Regions from separate parts of the Homo sapiens genome. Here region 1 is linked to region 2. Evidence: fine-mapped expression QTL. A gene starts in region 2. The other region holds a variant in brackets. All regions are shown on one strand. Distances are between the middles of the regions.

The links.
Region 1: its variant is fine-mapped to the expression of KLHDC7A in whole blood (TOPMed, PIP above 0.99).

Annotation. Positions count from the first base shown.
Region 1 is chr1:18,444,848-18,447,753 of GRCh38, forward strand. No RefSeq gene overlaps it. Among named protein-coding and RNA genes, the nearest start is that of KLHDC7A, 35 kb to the right of the region's middle. The variant T/C (reference allele first, on the strand shown) is at 1,630.
Region 2 is chr1:18,479,713-18,482,618 of GRCh38, forward strand. KLHDC7A (kelch domain containing 7A) reads left to right here and starts at 1,218. Exons shown (of 1, transcript NM_152375.3): 1 at 1,218-2,906. The coding sequence starts at 1,270. RefSeq lists enhancers at 296-1,168, 1,169-2,040.

The DNA.
Region 1 (2,906 bases), 35 kb before region 2:
TCCCATCCAGTAGGAGAGAAAAAGACCCTACCACCACCACCTGCCCCAGACAAGACGATTGGCCACCCACTTGGAATGCCATACACCGATTGGCTTAAGTCTGGACTCCTAGCCAATCACTGGCAATCCTGACCATGCTTGAGGACTCTAACTAGGATCATCCATCCTAGCCCTGGGGATAGATCCTGCTTCCCATATATGTAAATGGCTTCATCAGGGAGGGGCGAATGCTTGAGCAAGACAGGAGTCCCCTTAGGAAGAAGGAATGGGGAGTGAGTGTCGCAAAGGTGCCCTACAAAATTATTATCCCCATTTTACAGATGAGGGAGCCTCTGCCCAGAAAGGTTGGGTTATATGCCTGATATCGTTTGGATCTGTGTCCCCGCCCAAATCTCATGTCGAATTGTAATCCCCAACGTTGAGGGATGGGGCCTGGTGGGAGGTGCTTGGATCATGGGGGTGGATTTCCGCCTTTGGTGCTGTCCTCATGATAGACTTCTCACAAGATCTGGTTGTTTAAAAGTGTGTAGCATGCCCCCCAACCCCCCAGCAACTTTCTTCCTTCTACTCCAGCCATGTAAGACGTGTCGGCTTTCCCTTCACCTTCCACCATGATTGAAATTTTTCCCGAGGCCTCCCCAGAAGCCATCAAGCTTTCTGTAAAGCCTACAGAACCATGAGCCAATTAAGCCTCTTTTTTTTTTTTTTATAAATTACCCAGTCTGAGTTATTTCTTTATAGCAGTGCAAGAATGAACTAATACAGTGCCCAAACTCGGAGTTCTTCTGCAAGGAAATCTAGATTTGAACCCAGACCTCCCTGACTCCAGGGCTTGTAGTGGCCAGGTTCGAAGCTCTCCAAGCCTGCTTGGATCAGCGTGCCCCTACTGGGGAATGGCCAAGGGGCATGCTGGGGAATGGCCAAGTCTGGTTTCCCAGTGATGCTGAATCACTAGAGGGGTCCAGTGGGGGTGGGATTAAGATTCCACCTCATCCTCCCAGGTTTTTTTTTTTTTAAATCCTCCCCAGTCCTGAAGGTCTGGTCTTGGTCCCCAGGTCCAGGGAACATCCACAGTCAACCCAGTCTTGAGGGTGTTCCCGCCTCTACGTTCCTAAGCTGCAGTCCCCTGACGTGGGATTCATCTCTGGGAGTAAACTCCCCATCCCCTGCCTCCCTAAGACTGCCACCTGTGTAAGGTAGAACCCACTGGGATCCACCACAGCCTCCCTACTCACCACACTCCTCCTTGCACCTTCTGTTCCAGCACGGCTCCCTCTCTCTCACCTCCGTGATTTTGCATGGGCTGACCATTCCCTCTGCTTGATACACTATATCCCTGCTTCTCTTCTTTCTCTCCCCATTGCTCACCTCTTCATCATTGTCCCTCACTTCTTAGCTTATGACCCTACAAGTCACCTCCCCCTGCTTCAGTTTTCTTATCTGAGAAGCAGAATTAATAATAGAATTTTTGTGGAAAATAAATGAGAAAATGCACGTAACATGCTTAGAACCCTGTTTGGCATGTAGTCAAGTGTTTATGAAAAGTTTGCTATTATGATGATTATTATCTATCTCATCCTTTAGGTCTGAGTTTACACATCACTTCCTCCAGGAAGCCCTCTCTGAATA[T/C]CTCTCCCAAGTCAAAGTTATTTGCCCTGCTCTGTGCTCATACACATCCTGTGTAGGACAAGAGGCTATCACTTGTCACACCAAAGTAATCATTTACTCATCCCTGGCAGCAGAGATGACAGTGTCTGTCTGGTTTACCCTTATGTTCTAGGTGCCTAACACATTGCCTGCCACACTGTCACGAATAAATAGACACTTATGGGTAAGAAAATCAATGAACAACTGAAGTAGCAATAAGTCTCTGTACACCTGAGTCATTGGGCCACCAGTAGTTTCTCAACAGTGATGACAAGGATTTTCATCTGCTCTGAGAACTTCCTTTCCCTCCCTGCCCCCTGGTGAACACCAGCCCAGAGTTTAGCATTCAAGCCGTGATTAGTGCTTTCTCTTCTCCCCAGCCTGCCTTTCAGAACAGATGCCTCTCCCTCCCAATCAGTCCCCTCTACTGCTGCACCTGGTGTTTCATCAAAGGACCCTGATTTCCCTCCCGCCGCCCAAATCCATCAGACACATTTTGGCTGCCAATAGGGGCTGACCCTCCCCACCAAGGCCAGGCCCTACCCTGGCAGGGAAGCAAAACCTGGGCTCCGTGGCCCCACCACTCCTGTCCCTTCTGAAACCATGTGCACTGTTCACAGATACAGATAATCCATGCAGGCAAATGGGAAACCAGGCAAAGATAATCCAAAACCAGCCGAGGATCCAGAAGTCATTTCTATTTGGCTTTGAAGTGCATTCAGTTAAACTTATTTTTCCCCTACTATAGATTTAACTTCTTAATCCTCTTTTACTTCAGCTAATATTGAAATGAGTTTGCCTGCCCTATGCACACACTGTGTGTGTGTGTGTGTGTGTGTATGGTGGGGGTTGGGGGACCCCAGGATGCACCTAATGATTGCAAGCAATGCAATCAGAGATTTGAAGCTGGTCAATGCAAGGAGCCAGGCCTGCTGGAATCCAAGGACCTGGGGTGCAGCAACCCCAGATACAGACCCTGAAGAGGCCAACAGCGGTCAGCAGGTCAGCCAGGCCTCTGCCCTGCTGTCTGACACGGGAGGCCCTCTGGCTGCACAGCAGTCCAGCCTCCAAAGAAACAAAGGGCGGCCCCTCTCCACCACCCCCAACACATACGCATGCAATTACACACATACATATATACACACACATACACACATGCACATACACACACGAGCACATATACACACACGTGCATGCACACAATACACATATGCACACACATACATACACGTGCACACATGCACACTCACACGCATACA
Region 2 (2,906 bases):
GCGGACAGACGTCCTTACTTGTTCACTTTACCTACCCAGCCTCCATATGCAGCAAGAGTTTGAGACCCCTGCACAGGACTTTGGGGACTCTTTGAGGACCTTGGTCAGGAGAAGGGTAGAATTAGTTCTGTGCTTTGGAAGGTCCTCTGATGACAATTGATACTAGCGATGATGGTGCCGATGATCAGAAAGAGGAAAAGGAGGAAGAAGCAGAGAATAGTTCATATTTACTAAGCTTTCATGATGGGGGCTCTGCCCCAGTGTTTATTCCTAGTAGCCCATTTAGTTCTCCCCACAAGCTGATGAGGTGCGTATGCTGTCATCCTCCTTTTTCAGACAAAGCACAGAGCGGTGAGGTCTCTTGCCTAAGGTCATATAGTTGGTAAGTAGCAGAGCCAGGTAGTCTGGGTCCAGGACCCACAGCACTGGTGATGGGGGAGGGGAAATGGTGAGGGGGGGTCTGGGAGACGTGAGTCTTCCCTCAATCTTTCACCGTAGGAGATTGTCTGGTTTTAAAAGAGAAGATGTGTCCACATCTAACCCCGATCTGAGCACTAATGCAATGTCTTTCTCCACTGTTCTCAGAAAGGCTGGTTTTTCTTAATAAACTTGTCAGGCAGGGAAGGAGGGCAGAGGCACTCAAGGGCCGGCTCAGGTGGCTTGGCTGCATGCCCTGGCTCCAGACTCCACTGCCATGTTCCCGTTCCCTGCTTGGCCAGCATAAAGTTGACCCCACTGTGAGGACCAGCAGACCTCACAAGAATGACCCCATCCACGCCTACTGGGGCTCCACCTGCCCATGACTCACCACACCCAAGCCTCTGAGCCCAGTGGACTTGCAAAAGAGAAAATAAAGCACACACATAAAGAATAACCAACCCCATGCATTTCCTGGCATCGGGTGACTGTTTGGTTAAGAGCTTCCTCCTCTTTTGTATGCCCACTGGATACTCCTAACATCCCCTAGCTGCTGACCACAGAGCTGGCTTAGGTGGCTGATCACAAGCTCAGCCCCTGGGCGGGCCCCCCACCCCAGCCACCAGGGAAGCATGGAAGGAGGCCAGCCGCTGGGATCTGCCAGCTCTGGGCCCCAGCGGCCACCCTCTGCAGCTCAAAGTCACCTTTGCTCCTCTCCTCTCCTCGGCTGGCCAGCCAGAACCAGCCCAGAACTCCCTCCCCTCCGCTCAGCAGGACCCAGGAACTGGTCCCTACTGGGCAATTATTAATCAGATTCTTGACATTCCTCAGCCCCAGGTTGGCTGGAGAAGCATGTTCCCCAGAGGAGCAGAGGCCCAGGACTGGCATTTGGATATGCAGCTGACCGGCAAGGTGGTGCTGTCAGCCGCTGCCCTGCTCCTGGTGACTGTGGCCTACAGGCTGTACAAGTCGAGGCCTGCCCCAGCCCAGCGGTGGGGTGGGAATGGCCAGGCAGAAGCCAAGGAGGAAGCAGAGGGCTCAGGGCAGCCTGCTGTACAGGAGGCTTCTCCTGGGGTGCTCCTGAGGGGGCCAAGACGTCGGAGGAGCAGCAAGCGGGCTGAAGCACCACAGGGCTGCAGCTGTGAGAATCCAAGAGGCCCCTATGTCCTGGTCACGGGGGCCACTTCCACAGACAGGAAGCCCCAGAGAAAAGGCTCAGGTGAGGAGCGGGGCGGGCAGGGCTCGGACTCTGAGCAGGTGCCTCCTTGCTGCCCCAGCCAGGAAACCAGAACAGCTGTTGGCAGTAACCCTGACCCTCCCCATTTCCCCCGCTTGGGCAGCGAACCGAAGAGCTCCCCAGCTGGACTCATTGCAGCAGCCGACGGCAGCTGTGCCGGTGGTGAGCCTTCTCCATGGCAGGACAGTAAACCCCGTGAGCATCCAGGACTGGGGCAACTAGAACCTCCCCACTGTCACTACGTGGCTCCCTTGCAAGGCAGCAGTGACATGAACCAGAGCTGGGTCTTCACCCGTGTGATAGGGGTCAGCAGAGAAGAGGCTGGGGCTCTCGAGGCTGCCTCCGATGTTGACCTGACCCTGCATCAGCAGGAGGGCGCCCCCAACTCCTCCTATACCTTCTCATCCATAGCCCGCGTCCGAATGGAGGAGCATTTCATACAGAAGGCGGAGGGGGTTGAGCCCCGGCTCAAGGGCAAGGTGTACGACTACTATGTGGAATCTACCTCTCAGGCCATCTTCCAGGGCAGGCTGGCTCCCAGGACAGCAGCCCTGACTGAGGTTCCATCCCCTAGGCCACCGCCAGGGTCCCTGGGAACAGGGGCTGCCTCGGGAGGCCAAGCCGGTGACACAAAGGGTGCAGCCGAAAGAGCCGCCTCCCCGCAGACAGGGCCGTGGCCCTCCACCCGAGGCTTCAGCCGGAAGGAGAGCCTTCTGCAGATAGCGGAGAACCCAGAGCTGCAGCTGCAGCCAGATGGCTTCCGGCTCCCCGCTCCACCCTGCCCAGACCCGGGCGCCCTGCCTGGCTTAGGCAGAAGCAGCCGGGAGCCCCATGTGCAGCCGGTGGCCGGGACCAATTTCTTCCATATCCCGCTCACCCCTGCTTCAGCCCCACAGGTCCGCCTGGATCTGGGCAATTGCTATGAGGTGCTGACCTTGGCCAAGAGGCAGAACCTGGAGGCCCTGAAAGAGGCGGCCTACAAGGTGATGAGCGAAAACTACCTGCAGGTGCTGCGCAGCCCGGACATCTACGGGTGCCTGAGCGGGGCAGAGCGCGAGCTGATCCTGCAGCGCCGGCTCCGGGGCCGCCAGTACCTGGTGGTGGCTGACGTGTGCCCCAAGGAAGACTCCGGCGGCCTCTGTTGCTATGACGATGAGCAGGATGTCTGGCGCCCGCTGGCTCGCATGCCCCCCGAGGCCGTGTCCCGGGGCTGTGCCATCTGCAGTCTCTTCAATTATCTCTTCGTGGTGTC